Linked DNA regions of Homo sapiens: region 2 is linked to region 1. Evidence: fine-mapped expression QTL. Tissue or cell type: whole blood. Region 1 holds a variant in brackets; the other region holds the start of a gene. All regions are shown on one strand. Distances are between the middles of the regions.

Region 1 (8,108 bases):
ATTAAAAATACTTTGAAAGACTTAGGCCAGGTGCCTGTAATCCCAGCACTTTGGGAGGCCAAGGTGGGCAGACCACTTGAAGTCAGGAGTTGAAGATCAGCCTGACCAACATGGTGAAACCCTGTCTCTACTAAAAATACAAAAATTAGATGGGTGTTGTGGCAGGCACCTGTAATCCCATCTGCTCAGGAGGCTGAGGCATGAGAATTGCTTGAATCCGGGAGGTGGAGGTTGCAGTGAGCCGGGATCGCACCACTGTACTCCAGCCCAGGTGACAGAATGAGACCCTGTCTCAAAAAAAAAAAAAAAAAAAAAAAAAAAAGACTTAAAAAATACTTAGTATTTTATCAAAACTAGGCTTGAAACTCTAAATTAGTGCATAAAGTCAGTGTAATCCTAATAAAAATTCCAATAGGATTGGGAGAGGTGAGAATTCCAAAAGTGAAACAATTCTTAGAGTCTACTTGGAATGATAAACATTTGAGAATACTGAGGAAAACTCTGAAAAGGAAGACTAATGAGTGAGAACTAGGCCTAGTTGGTAAAACACTTCAAAGCTACTGTCATTCAAACAGTGTGGTACTGGCTTAGGAATAGAAAAAGCGAGGAAGGAGATCAAATATGTAAGAGAATTTAATATGTAAAAACCATCAGTTGGCAAATGACTTGGATAATAGTCAACAAATGGTGTTGGGACAATTGACTTGCCTTTTGGAAATAAGTAAGCTAACCTGACAGAAAGTTAAGTCTAACTTGACAAAAAGATGGACAAATGATACAAATATGTAATGTGTAATTCTACACATGGAAGATAAGTAACAGAAAAGATACTTAACCTCACTAACAATAAAAAAAGGCAAATTAAAATAGACGATTTGTCATCTATCTGCTTGGCAAATATTAAGACTGATGCAGTACAATTGACTATACTAGGGAGTGGGTACTCTTACAGACTTAAAACAGCTGAAACTGTTTCATTTTTAGAGAACAATTTGTCATAATTTAGAAGTTACTCAACAAAAGTATGTGTGCAAGTACTCAAAGACTTTTACAATGTAGCATGGTTTTGTAATTTGCAAAACACTGCAAATAACCGAAATGTCCAATAGCAAAGGATTAAATAAGCTATTAATTCAATGGAATATTATACAACCACAAAAAGAGAAATAGATACACATATAACAAATATGAAAAGATATTCAGCATATGAAATTTTAAAAAGCAGGTTACAAAAACAATGTATAATGAGAATAATCCCATTTTTGTATAAATATAGGAAAACATGACTATAATTACTCCTCTATCTATAGAACATACCTGAAAGTCTATGTAATTAACCTTTTTTTTTTTTTTTTTTTTTTTGAGACTGAGTCTCACTCTGTCGCTCAGGCTGGAGTGCAGTGGCATGATCTCGGCTCACTGCAGCATCCACCTCCCAGGGTCAAGCAATTCTCCTGCCTCAGCCTCCTGCGTAGCTGGGATTACAAGCGCCTGCCACCATGCCCAGCTAATTCTTGTATTTTTAGTAGAGACAGGGTTTCACCATGTTGGCCAGGCTGGTTCCGAACTCCTGACCTCAGGTGATCTGCCTGCCTCGGCCTCCCAAAGTGCTGGGATTACGGGCATGAGCCACCGCACCCAGCCAATTAACCATTTTTTAATAGTGTTTCTCTGGGGATGACATGAGAACTAATGGAGAAGGTCAATTTTTAATTCTGTATGTTTTGTACTGGAAATTATTTTTATACTGGCCACAGATAATTTTTATATGAAAAAAGAATATGTCCCCTAATTAAAAATTAACTGCCGGGCTTGGTGGCTCACGCCTGTAACCCCAGCACTTTGGGAGGCCAAGGTGGGCAGATCACCTGAGGTCACGAGTTTGAGATCAGCCTAGCCAACATGATGAAATCCCGTCTCTAAGAAAAATACAAAAATTAGCTGGGTGTGGTGGCGTGCACCTGTAATCCCAGCTACTTGGGAGGCTGAGGCAGGAGAATCACTTGAACCCGGGAGGCGGAGGTTGCACTGAGCTGAGGTCACGCCACTGCACTCCAGCCTGGGCAACAGAGCAAGACTCTGTCTCAAAAAAAAAAAAAAAAGAAAAGAAAAGAAAAAATAACTTAATGGCTAACTGATACTGATATTTCTAGTTTTAGAGAAATAGTCACCAAGGACACTTGACTAATTTTCCTGGCATTTCTTAAATATTTAGCCATTCATGAAATACAAAAGAGAATGAGAAAGCTGAGGGGAAAAGTAAATAAAATTAAAGCGGCTATTTAGTATTCATGGTGGACTCTAAGAATATTATTTAATTTGAAGGTGTTCATTACATTTAAGTGAGAGTAAATGGAGATGATGTATGAGAACTAAGTTAAGAATAATAAACCTTTCTCCCAATTTCATCATCCAGTCTTCTTAGTTCCATTTCCTGTTGATCTTGCTGAAGCTTCAGAAAACGCCTTCTTGCAGCATCTTGTAAGTGCATTTCCTTTACTTTCAGCTCTCTTTTCACAGCAGCTAGCCTTAAATACAAAATACATCAAGTGGAACAAATACAGCAATTCCTAATATGATTTAGTTTTTTCATAACAGGTCTGCCATGCTGATCATTTCAATACAATTGATATCCTTTATTTGAAAGAAGAATGCGAGAACTGCTCCACCGTTACCAAAGATGATGTATACTTATGCTTTAAGAATTTTAGTAGAAAGCTCACTGGCTCAGTTCAGTAATTCCTTTTAACCCACACTATAAATCTGTTACATAAAGTTCCATCTAAGAATAGGAATCAATAAACACAGAAGTGAGTTTCCCAACTATTGGGCTTAGTCTCAATGTTTATCCCATTACTTTACTTAATTTACACATTTTACCTTATTAACATACTTTTATGTATTTATTTTTAAGTTTTTTCTTTTTATTTTTTAAGAGACAGGGTCTCACTATGTTGCCCAGGCTGGCCTTGACCTCCTGGGCTCAAGTGATCCTACCTAGTAGCTGGGACTATAGGTATGTGGCACCACACCCAGCTAACGTACTTTTGAATACGCATTTAATACTCATTCCCCTGTCCTCCAAAGTGTTAAATGGGTAATGACATAATCATTCTATGTTACAACTGTCAGGTCACACAGGTATGTTTAAAACACAATTAAAAAAATTATACTCTACTAAAGGTGATGTACCTAGCATTCTATTACAAAGCATTTCTGCCCACTATAGAATAATGTTTCTAAATAATGTCCTTCAAGGAACATTAATCCATGCAAAGCTATATTATATTCAGCATAGCTTCAGAATTACATTTTACTACATAGCAATTTTTTTTGAAAAGTGGTATATAAAGATTCTTTTTATTAACTTAATAGTTGCTTTATAGAAATGCTACAGCTGGGTAATCCTATATATAATGTTGTTTCTAAAATGAAAAAATGAAAGAACATAAAAATTATTCAACTAACTTATATGTCCAGATTTTTTTTTAAAGTGATAACACATACCTCTGTCTTTGTTGTATCATTTTCTCCTCCTCTTGTAAGAGCATTTCTCTTCTTGTTTCTTCAGCTTTACGAAGCAGCTCCTGTTTCTGGTACCAAGCTTCATCTTCAACTCTTTGCT[G/T]GTCGACTTTAGCTTGCATATCTTCAACTGTCTGCCTTAAGTAGGTAATATTATTATGAAAACACAAAGAAGAAAGCTAAGAATCATCAAAACACAAAATGTATACCGATTAATGTATAATCTATTTTATTTCCATATGCAAGAATTAACTATCTTTAATATTTCTAGCCTTCAAACTCTGATTTTACACAAATACTCATAATTTAAATGCATTTTTTTTTTTTTGAGATGAAGTCTCACTCTGTCGCCCAGGCTGGAGTGCAATGGCATGATCTCCGCTCACTGCAACCTCCTCCTCCTGGGTTCAAGTGATTCTCCTGCCTCAGCTTCCTGAGTAGCTGGGACTACAGGGGCGTGCCACCATGCCTGGCTAATTTTTTGTATCTTTAGTAGAGACGGGGTTTCACCATGTTGGCCAGGCTGGTCTCGAACTCCTGACCTTGTGATCTACCTGCCTTGGCCTCCCAAAGTGCTGGGACTATAGGCGTGAGCCACCGCGCTCAGCCAAATGTATTTTTCATTAAAACTTTCTTATGTTTATAACATATTTCATTGTATCAGAAAAAGAAAAACTATTCCATAATTACCTCTCTCTTAAGTAATCCAATTCATCATTCCTTATTCTTTCTCGTTCCTGTGTTTGATAGTCCACAATAAACTTTGGATATTGATTAAATACTGGATACTGCCCTTTTGTCAGTGCAACAAAAACATTAAGCATGCTGTCTGGATGAATGTCAGTAGGCGTGGTCTCCATGAGATGATAAACTTGTCTAATCACAACATTTATATCCAGGTTATTCCGATGGTGAAAAAAAAACTGTAAGAAAACTTGGTGTTTAAATCGAGATTTACCTGACAAAGCAATTATGAGGTAGAATTAAAACAAGAATTTAAAAAAAGTGTATCTATCTTTAAGAATATATATTTTTTTGCAAATTCATTAAAGCTTTTCTTTACTCAAGTTTTACAACAAAGACAATTTATTTAAAAAATGTAAGAGTTTCACAATCATAAGAAATTCTGACATAAAATTAAAAAATGAAGGCTTTTCTTACAATAGAAAAAGAATGCTTCAACAATGGAACAAACTCTGCTTGGATTTTTTTTTTCTTCAAAATCCAAAATAAATTATAAATTAGCCTTTGAAAATAAATTAGCTTGCTTCTTTAAAAATATCTAAAAAGTTTCCACATTATCTTGTTTTGCTGGAAGATCCAAATTAATGTATCACAGGATCATGAAGTAAAAATAAAGTTTAATTGGACAGTAACCACTAAATAAGTAACACATACACACACACACAAGAACCCAACTAATTCATCTTGTCTACCAAAAGAGCGTCTACTTTTTATAATGATCTTAATGCTTTCTTTCAGACACTTTCCTGCCAAGTCTCAAAACTCTCATAGTTACCTTTTGCATGTGTAATAAGCATTCAGACCCTCTAAGACCAGATGGGTCATGATAAGATTATGCACAGAATAACAGAATAACCTGTTAAACATCCTTTATAAAAGCAAGAAGCAGCCGGGCGTGGTGGCTCATGCCTGTAATCCCAGCACTTTGGGAGGCCGAGGCAGGTGGATCATCTGAGGTAAGGGGTTCGAGACCAGCCTGGGTAACCTAGTGAAATCCTGTCTCTATTAAAAATATAAAAAACTTAGCTGGGCGTGGTGGCGGGCACCTGTAATCCCAGCTACTCGGGAGGCTGAGGCAGGAGAATCTCTTGAACCCGGGAGGCAGAGGTTGCAGTGAACCGGGACTGTGCCATTGCACTCCAGCCTGGGCAACAGAGCGAGACTCTGTCTCCAAAAAAAAAAAAAAAAAAAAAAAAAATGCAAAAAGCACAAACCCCAATATTATCATGATTCTTTTCTTAAGCTATGATTATAAGACTACTAGCCTGCTATAATTGCCTACTTTATTGTCTATAAACTGTACACAGGTAGGGATGTGGTCTAACTTGTTATCCTTTATATTCCTACTACCTAGCACCAGTGTCTGACATATAACAGGGACTCAATAAATAAATGGATTTTTCAATTGAAATAACTGATATGGCCTGGCACTGTGGCTCACGCCTATAATCCCAGCACTTTGGGAGGCCGAGGTGGGTGGATCACGAGGTCAGGAGTTTGAGACCACCCTGACAGCATGGTGAAACCCCATCTCTACTAAAAATACAAAAATTAGCTGGGCATGATGGTGCGCACCTGTAATCCCAGCTACTCAGGAGGCTGAGGCAGGAGAATCGCTTGAACTTGGGAGGCGGAGGTTGCAGTGAGCTGAGATCGCGCCATTGCACTCCAGCCTGGGCAACATAGCGAGACTCTGTCTCAAAAAATTAAAAAAAAAATAGAGAGAAATAACTGATATTTGAGAACCTTCTCTTAAGAACAAGGACCGTTACCTCAAAGTCATCTTTAAGATTACAGCTGAGCAGAGGCGTTCTAGAACATATGTTGTAGGCTACAACAGTCATCAGAAGGAAGGAAGGATGGTTGGAAAAGATATTATCGAACAATTTCAGCCACTCCTCTCTTGTCAGCACTTCTGAGAACACAGTTTCAAGAAGAGGCCATGCATATAGCTAAAACAGATAAGGAAAAATTTATTATTTTTCTAGGGAAAAGTAAAAAGGGAGTCATTGGTAATATTCCCTTACATTCGATTTAAGCTATGAAAATCATATTAAATACATAATTATGAAAATAACTACCTTAATTTGGACCCTTCTTTACAGACTTTCAGGAAGGCAGTTTAATGAAGAAAAAGAATGGAATACTGTTAAAAATACAACATGTAGTATGCTTTTTATTATACTCCTTCAAGAAAAGACTGTTTATACCAGAACCAATGTTAGCTTACAAAATAAGGCATGTTATTCTAAAAACCTTATGCTTCTTACCTGGGAGGTTATATCATGATCTATGAAGTGTTGCAGCAGTTCCTTGTCATGAAATGCCAAAACATTTTCTATCATGCTAAGAATATTGATAGGAGGATTAGGAAAATATTCAAACCAGTGTTGACACCAATTGACTATGAAGGAAAAAAAAGAAAACATATCTTTAAATATCTTTCCATGTTATCAAAACTCTTTGCAATTCTTAAATGTATCCAATCTTTATGTTCTCAATATGTCCATGAATAATAAAAAAAAACTCTTTATATTGTATGACAATCGATTTTAAAATCCTATCATGTTAACATAGTATGTTTACAGAAATTTTGCAAATTTCCTTACAGTAGTCAATGAAAAAGTGTTAATTAAAACAAACAATCACAACTTCCCAAAGTACTCCTGATGGCATTCTGGCTCCTGACTCCTGCTTTGTTCATCACCTGATTAACGAAATGATCTTTTTAAAAAGGGCCCCTATTTAACCCTTCATTAAATGTAATCAACATTAGCATGCCAATCTCCTCAAATCTACTAAAATTCACATGTAATCAAAATTAGAAAACTTAAGGAAAATGTTCAAAATTACATCAGCAATATATAAAAACAAATGTGTATATACTGTATCCCTAATCCCTTAAACATTATAATGACAATAAAAATGTCCTCATTCTGAGGAAAAGACTGATTGTTCTATAAGCATGGTAATAAGGAATAACCAGGAATAGCCACCAGGACTGGTTTTATATCTAACTGATCATTGACAACTTGTTTCAGTAAACTTGACTTGAAAACCAACCAATCGGTAACAGTGGCATTCTTTGAAAGTCAGTTAGTCCAAAGTAGAATATATTCAACTAACTCTAAGGCTGACTTTGACTCACTTGCACTCTGTAATCAGTAGAACGACCCACAGATTGTTCTCAAAGCCGTATATAAGACCATCGGTTTGTTTTGTTCAATAAGACTATGTTTAACTTAATTTTAAAATTTTTTTAATTTTAAATATTGAGTTGTAGATTCATCCTTTGATAATAAGATCTCCTATCTCAAAATAGCAAAAGAAGGCTTTATCAGCAGAATATTAGATTACAGTGGTTTATAAGAACTTTCCAATTCTGGAGTTCCATTATTTCACTTATTATTGATTATTTAAATTTGAGTTAATAATGAAGTCAGAAATAAAATCTTGCAAAGACTGAGCTTTAAAAAATATTTCAAATTCTCTGTAGCTCTTAATTTTTTTTTTTTTTTTTTGTGAGACGGAGTCTCACTCTGTGGCCCAGGCTGGAGTGCAGTGGCGCGATCTCGGCTCATTGCAACCTCTGCCTCCCGGGTTCAAGTGATTATCTTGTCTCAGCCTCCCAATTAGCTGGGATTAGAGGCACCTACCACCATGCCCAGCTCATTTTTTTTTTTTTTGTATTTTCAGTAGAGACAGGGTTTCACTATGTTGGCCAGTTTGGTCTCGAACCCCTGACCTCAGTTGATCCACCCACCTTGGCCATCCCAAGTGCTGGGATTACAGGTGTGAGCCGCTGCGCCCAGCCCAGCTCTTAATTTTAAGTGGAAAAATAT
Region 2 (8,108 bases), 56 kb after region 1:
GACACATATGTAATGATTAAACTTAAATGAAAACGAAAATATTCTAACCTGAAGTTTTAAACACTGATACACACACACACACACACACACACACACATACACACAATTAAAAGAAAAAATAAAGAAGAAAAATCAAAACCAAACACGTCTCCAGAAAAATTTCAAAAAATTAGCCAGGCATGGTGCATGTGCCTGTGATCCCAGTTACTCAGGAGTCTGAGGTGGCATTATCACTAGAGCCTGGGGAGGTCAAGGCTTCAGTGAGCCATGATCATGCCACCGCACTCCTGCCTGGGTGACACTGTAAGACCCTGTCTCCAAAGGAAAAGAAAAATACGTATAGGGAAAAAAAGATGAATACAGCTAAATATTAACAGCAGCTGTCTGCAGGTAATAGCAATATGGTTAATTTTTTTCCCCTTTCTACTTTTCTATCTTTTAGACATGTTATTTAATGATTACATACTATTTTCATAACAGGAAAGACAAGAATACATGTGTTTAAAGTTACCCTTTTTGAGAGAAGGATTATATACCCTGTATCTGTTGAAAGAAAATTTATAAAATTAACTTACAGCACAAAATAACTCCTTAAAATAATATATGTGCGTATATTCTCGTCACAAAGATCAGAATAATCCCATTCTTTATTGCAACAATAGTTTTTAATCATGAAAATTTTATCTTAATTGATTTTTCATAAATTTTTGGATTTTGTTTTATTTTTTTTTTTGAGATGGAGTCTCGCTCTGTCACCCAGGCTAGAGTGCAGTGGTGCAATCTCGGCTCACTGCAATCTCCACCTCCTGGGTTCAAGTGATTCTCCTGCCTCAGCCTCCTGAGTAGCTGGGATTACAGGTGCACGCTACCATGCCCAGCTAATTTTTTGTATTTTTAGTAGAGACAAGGTTTCACCATGTTGGCCAGGCTGGTCTCAAACTTTTGACCTCGTGATCCTCCCACCTTGGCCTCCCAAAGTGCTGGAATTACAGGCGTGAGCCACTGCACCTTGCCTAGTTTTTGGATTTTATATTAGAAACATCTATCTTCATTATAATTTCATTAAAGTATACTAAATTGAATTAAGTGGATTAAACATTTTCTCCATGTGTATCTAAACATAAGGCTTTTTAGACTCACTAAAGGAAATAGCAAAATTCTTAACAATGCTTATTTTTATCTAGTCCCCAAGGAATTAAAAACACAAAAATAAACATACAGAAATGACAAGCAATATCAAAATGTTTCATGGCAACTAAACTCAGAGCAAACAACTTTTTCCTCCAGTCTTATTTTCTAGAACACTTATTACATGTTCTGGCTACAAAATTACACAATCATTGTTCAAAATATGAAAAATATAGAAATACACTAAGAAACAAATACTCAATTATAATCCTACCATGTAGATGTAATCACAATAGTGACATTCTGCCCCTCCGATTTTTCATATAAATCACACGTAAAAAATTTATTTTAGAGCAACTTCCTTTCAGATTCTCACAGATTGCCTGACAGAGTTCCTCAGTTCTCAAACACAAGAAGAATATCAAATATTTACTGAGCACCAAATGTGTAAGACAACCTGTCTGGTAAATCTGATTCTCCCCACTGACAGCCTTAGTGATTAACTTCCCCAAGGTCACAGAGTTGGTAAACGGACATTTACTTCAACAAAATACATCTGACTCCAAGTCAGTGCTCTCTGCCCGTCTAAACAGCATGAACAATGGGTTTTAACGAACACAAAGATAAGCTATGCTTTAGTGGAAGAAGCAAACAAGACATTTGGATAATCAACCCATTTCTTTCACTTTTTGAATCTTGCACATATATCTAGATATTTTGTATCATCAAGAAAGAGAAGGCGAGTGGGCTATAACTTTTAGAATGTTTAGAGAATACCAGAGGTGGGAGTGGTATTCACACAAACTCAGAATTTGAAAATGAAAAACTTGAGGAATCCCCACTTTAGAGAAAATTTTTTATTCAATGTAGTTGAGGCAGCGGCATTGATAAAGAGGCCTGACAGTAACCAGGAACCAAACAAGCTGCTGGTAAAACGTCTCGCATCGCACTTTGGATATACAGAGTAGGCACTTAAAACTGATTTGTCGGCCAGGCGCGGTGGCTTACGCCTGTAATCCCAGTACTTCGGGAGGCCAAGGTGGGTGGATCACGACATCAGGAGATCAAGACCATCCTGGCTAACACGGTCCGTCTCTACTAAAAATACAAAAAATTAGCCGGGAGTGGTGCGCCTGTAATCCCAGCTACTCAGGAGGCTGCGGCAGGAGAATCGCTTGAACCCGGGAGGCGGAGGTTGCAGTGAGCCGAGATCGCGCCACTGCATCCGACCCTGGGCAACAGAGCAAGACTCTGTCTCAAGAGAAAAAAAAAATTCTGATTTGTCAAGAAGCAACCAAAGGATCAATAGAAAAATCACTAGAGGCCGGGCGCGGTGGCTCAGGCCTGTAATCCCTGCACGTTGGGAGACTGAGACAGGCGGATCACCTGAGGCCAGGAGTTCAAGACCAGCCTGGCCAACATGGTGAAACCCCGTCTCTACTAAAAATACAAAAATTAGCCGGGCGTAGTGGCGCGCGCCAGTAATCCCAGCTACTTAGGAGGCTGAGGCAAGAGAATCGCTTTAACTCGGGAGGTGGAGGATGCAGTGAGCCGAGGTCGCGCCACTGCACCCCAGCCCAGGCGACAGAGCAAGACTCCGTCTCAAAGAAAAGAAAAATCACTGCTAGAACAAGAAACACACTGAAACAGGAACTCAAGCAATTTCCGTGAAATCCTAGGGAATTAGGAGCAATAAGATCACTCTGCGTGCAGAAATCGAAATCCAAATGGCACCGCTTTGTAGCAAAGGCTTCCAGGGAAACAAGACAGGCTGAGCCTCAAACAGGACAGGTAACTGGGAACAGAATGAAAAGCAGCGCTGGCCGTACTAGAAGCCCCCCAGCAATGCATAATGAACGCCCCAGCCCCTACATACACGCCGATATGTAAACTCCAGAGAACCGGAAGTGTGTTTTGTTCCATCGCCGTCCCCAGCGCTTAGAGGCGTGCTTGGCACACAGTAGGAGCTCAACAAATAGTTGATGAATGCTTGTGCGTCTAAACACATCCAAGGATTTAAGGATGGATAAACTGCAGCCTTTGGAAGAGGCAGAATTGTCCTGCTCTTCCACCCCGCATCTCCTCCTGGAGTTCTGCTCCAGCTGCAACTGTTAAATACTCACTGAGCACCTACTACGTGCCAGGGACACTAGCGGGATACCGTGATCATAAAAGCAGGAGAGTCCCGGTACACAGCAAAAGCCGCAAGTTCCCAGGTCTGAGAACCACCGGCCTCCTCCTGCTCCGCGCTGTCCCGGACCAGACCCCCGCTCCCAGAACTCAGAAGGGGATCTCTGCGGACCCTGGCGTCCGGAGCCATCTGTTCCACCGCAGGTCATCCAACCCAGGGATGCGGGGCAAGGTCAGAGCCAGAACCCGGAACGCTGCCTGACGCCCGGCGTCCCCTCCTCGCCGGTCTCCATCCCCTCCACAGCCCGCGCCCTCCCGCCACGGCCTTTACCCGTCCCGCGTGGCCGGGGACGGCTTGCGGTGCCATATCTTGCCGCTCTCCTTGTTGCCTAGGTCAGTGCTCTGCATGGCGAAGCTTGCCCACGACCGCCGGCGGCCCGCTGGGTAACCGTCCCAGCGCCTTCCCGGCAGGCCCAGCGCTCCCGGCCCGGGAAATTTGAGCTCCGGCCGCGGCGGCCTAGGTCCAGCACCAGCAGGCCGTACCAACCCCCTTTCTAATAACAACCAATTGGAAGGCTGATCCCTCCCAAAATCCGCCCAAGCGGCCACTCCCTCTCTGGACAATGTAATCGACCAAAGACCTTCTCTTAGAGTCCACCTCTTTCTGAGCTCAGTCTTCCCGCCCCCGGACCCAAAGCCTTCTGGGAATCGTAGTTTTTTGCAGGTGGATCATAGACGCGAGGAATTGGCTTGGGAATTCCGCCCTTTGGGAGCCTCGTGGGGTTTTAGGCTCCCATCAGAGGCAATAAAACTCATTTTCTCCTGTGGTCCCTGCATTCCGTTCTAAATTGCTTTTAGGGATTAAGGAATTGTATAGAAATAACTAAGAGAAGCAAGGAAACAAGTGCAGAGAAGCAAGGAGACAAATACATTGAGAACTGATGGGTTCCTTTCATAGAACGTTCGGGCTCAAATGAAACTTACAGATGAAATAGTTCATTCTTCCTGACCTTTTCACCATCCTCATGGTTTTGTTTCGTTTCTTCAGTTTCGTAATCTGACAGGCCTTCCAGCATTATGATGTCCAGTCCACCAATCATGGTCCAGAAAAGCAATAATATCAACAACTGGCTGCCTCGACTTTAGCGTTCCTTTGATAAAAATTCACTTAGTGCCTCCGGAGCGCTTACTAGGTATGGGGCACTTTTCTACTATACCGAATATATCAACTCAATTAATCCTCGTAGCAAATTTACAAGTTAGGTAGTACTAATTATCTCCATTTTTAGTGCTCTATGAGGTTGTGCATTAATTTCCTGAGGCTGCCCTCACAAATTACCACAAACTTGGTGACATAAAAAAACAGAAATGTATTCTTGGGAAGTTCTTGAGGCCATACATCGGAAATCAAAGTGTCTGCAGCCTCCTTTCAGGCTCTAAGCAAGATTCCCTTACTTGTCTATTCCAGTTTCTGGGAGTTGCTGGCGTTCTCTGCTTGTGATCGCATCGCTCCATTCTCCGCTTCCATCTTCACACGTCTTTCTCCTCCTGGATGTATCTTTTCCTCTTCTGTCTGTTTCAAATCTCCCTCTGTTTTTCTCTTATAAGGAAACTTGTCATTGGGTCCATATGAATAATACAGGAATACAGGATGATCTTTTCATCTCAAAATCCTTAACTTGATTACATCTGCAAAGACCCTTTTTCCAAGTAAGGTAACAGTCACGGATTTTGGGATTAGTATGTTGACATATATTTTGGGGGGCCACCAATCAACCTGTTACAGGTAAGTACTAATATTATCCACTTTTGCAGACAAGGAAACCTTAAATCTTTCCATTCCTAGTCTCTATGTTGTTCTACAACAGAAAAATGATGTTAAAAAAATTATATGGTCGTGGTATTTGAAAAGTTCAAACTCTTGATCAGAAAAGCAAATTCTCAAAAAAAATACTAATGCAGGTTTTTAAACTTTATGTTGTTATCAAGGGGTGGCTCTGAGAGATCAGACAACTTGTAATGACCTATTGCAGAGGAAGCAACTGCAGCTCTTATTTTTATTTATTGGTTTTGAGATGGAGATAAACTACATGTATCAATGTTTGCATTATTATTTAGGAAACTTAGAATCTTAAATTTAAGATACAGTGCCTAACCTGAAACAGATTATTTCACAACATTTCTATCCCACACCATTAACCAAACAACCTTTTTTTATCGGAAGCAAAGATGAATCTGCTGAATGATTTTCTTAACTTCTCTAGCTTAACCTGTCTGCAGCTAAGCTAGTTTGGGCTGTCTCAGCCCATGTGGCCATCCTATTCAATCTCAGATATGTGATAAAGAGGTTTATATGTTAGATCTTCTGGACTCCCACTTTGTACTTATCTTTTGATTTAGGGGGCACAATTTGAAGGTCAGGCTGAAGAGATGTGTACCCACAGCTGCTAAAGTTCTACTCATTAGATCTCCCAGTTTTTACAACACTAATTGGTAGTCTCTTGTGATCTAGTTCCTTTCTGAATTATTAGTCACTCAATAACAGGTACATACTATTTATATGTATCTATCTGTATATATACAGATAAATAATGTACAGATAAATATATATACATATATATTTGGATATCCAAATGTATATATATGGATATACACACACACATGTATACACTTACAACACTAATTGGTAGTCCCTTATGTTCTAGTTCCTTTCTGAATCATTAGTCACTCAGTAACAGGTACATACTATTTTTATATATATATATATATATATATATATATATATATATATATATATATACATACACACACACATATGTTATATATATAAAATATATATACATATATAAAGGTATCTATATGTATAAAAGTATATAGTATAAGTATACCTATATACCTATTATATATATGGTATACTATATACCTATACTTTATACCTTTATATATAAAGGTATACTACATACCTATTTATATATAAAGGTATACTATATACCTATTTATATATAAATATACCTTTAGTATACAGTATACCTTTGTATAGTGTAAAGGTATACTATTTATATGTACTTTCATATGTATTTATAAAGGTACACAGTATGGACCTTTATACATTTGTTTGTTTGTTTGTTTGAGATGGAGTCTTGCTCTGTTGCCCAGGCTGGAGTGCAGTGGCGTGATCTCAGCTCACTGCAACCTCTGCCTCCCAGGTTCAAGTGATTCTCCTGCCTCAGTCTCCCAAGTAACTGGGATTACATGCTTGCGCCACCACGCCCAGCTAATTTTTGTATTTTTTTTTTTTTTTTTAGTAGAGATGGGGTTTCACCATGTTGGCCAGGCTGGTCTCGAAATCCTGACCTCAAGTGATCCACCCACCTCGGCCTCCCAAAGTGCTGGGAATACAAGTGTGAGCCACTGCACCTAGCCTATATATATTTATGTGTGTATATATATAAATACATACACACACAAATAATATGTACCTTTATATATATTTATGTACATATAAATAGTATGTACTATATAAATAGTATGTACATATATAAACAGTATGTACATATATACATATATATATTATATATACACATATGTACCTGTTATTGAGTGACTAATGATTCAGAAAGGAACTAGAGCAGAAGGGACTACCAATTAGTGTTCCAAGTATATACATATAAACAGTTTTACTGAGAAATAATTGACATTCAATAAACTTTACATATTTAAAGTGTACAGTTTTATAAGTTTTTAGGTAGCTAACCCCCCCATGAAACCATCACTATAATCAAGATAATGAAAACATCCATCATCCCTAAAAGTTTCCTCATCTCTCTTTGTAACCTTTCGACTCCCACCCCACTTTGCCCATGAGCAACCACCGATCTGTTTTCCTTTCTTTAGTTAACATTTTCTAGAAATTTATATAAATGGATTCATAGACTACGTGTATGTATTGTACTTTGGTGTCTTTCCTTTTTTTTTGTTGGTCTGGTTTCTTTCATTCATCATAAATTTGAGATTATTTTGAGATTCAATTGTGTTTTTGTATGTATCAGTAGTTATTCTTTTTTATGGCATCAATTGATATGGTTTGGGTTTTTGTCCCCACCCAAATCTCATCACGAATTGTAATCCCCACATGTCAAGGGTGGGACCAGGTGGGAGGTGATTGGATGGATCAGAGGGGCAGCTTCCCCCATGCTGTTCTCATGATAGTGAGTGAGTTCTCACAAGATCTGATGGTTTTATAAGGGGCTCTATCCCCTTCACGTAACACTCTCTCTTGCCTGCTGCCATGTAAGATGTACCTGTTCCCCTTCCACCATGATTATAAGTTTCCTGAGGCCTCTCCAGCCCTGTGGAACTGTGAGTCAAATAAACCTCTTTTCTTTGTAAATTACCAACTCTTGGGTATGTCTTTAAAGCAAAGTGAAAATGGACTAATACATCAATATACCACAATTTTTTTTTTGAGACAGGGTCTCATTCTGTTGCCCAGACACGAGTGCAGTGGCATGACCATGACTCACTGCAACCTTGACCTCCCAGGCTCAAGGGATCCTCCCACCTCAGCCTCCTGAGTAGCTGGGACTACAGGTGTCACACCTGCCTAATCTTTTGTATTTTTTGTAGAGACAGGGTCTCACTGTGTTGCCCAGGCTGGTCTTAAACTCCTGAGCTCAAGCTATCCACCAACCTCAGCCTCCCAAAGTGCTGGGATTACAGGTGTGTGCCACCATGCCTGGCCCAATATACAACAATTTGTTTATCCATCCATCTGATCCACCTGGTGATGAACACTGGAGTTGTTTGCAGTTTTTGGCTATTCCGAATAACACTGCTGTGAATGTTCTTAT

What was found. PIP is the estimated chance that this variant, and not a neighbour inherited with it, causes the effect.
Region 2: TBC1D31 starts here. The variant in region 1 is fine-mapped to the expression of TBC1D31 in whole blood (TOPMed, PIP above 0.99). The same link has a PIP of 0.9 or more in blood mononuclear cells.

Annotation. Positions count from the first base shown.
Region 1 is chr8:123,124,618-123,132,725 of GRCh38, reverse strand. It overlaps TBC1D31 (TBC1 domain family member 31), which reads right to left. Exons shown (of 22, transcript NM_145647.4): 12 at 6,537-6,670; 13 at 6,039-6,218; 14 at 4,213-4,445; 15 at 3,508-3,660; 16 at 2,393-2,528. Among named protein-coding and RNA genes, the nearest start is that of TRM-CAT1-1, 29 kb to the left of the region's middle. The variant G/T (reference allele first, on the strand shown) is at 3,626.
Region 2 is chr8:123,068,328-123,076,435 of GRCh38, reverse strand. It overlaps TBC1D31 (TBC1 domain family member 31), which reads right to left and starts at 3,729. Exons shown (of 22, transcript NM_145647.4): 1 at 3,590-3,729. The coding sequence starts at 3,666. RefSeq lists a silencer at 3,677-3,826.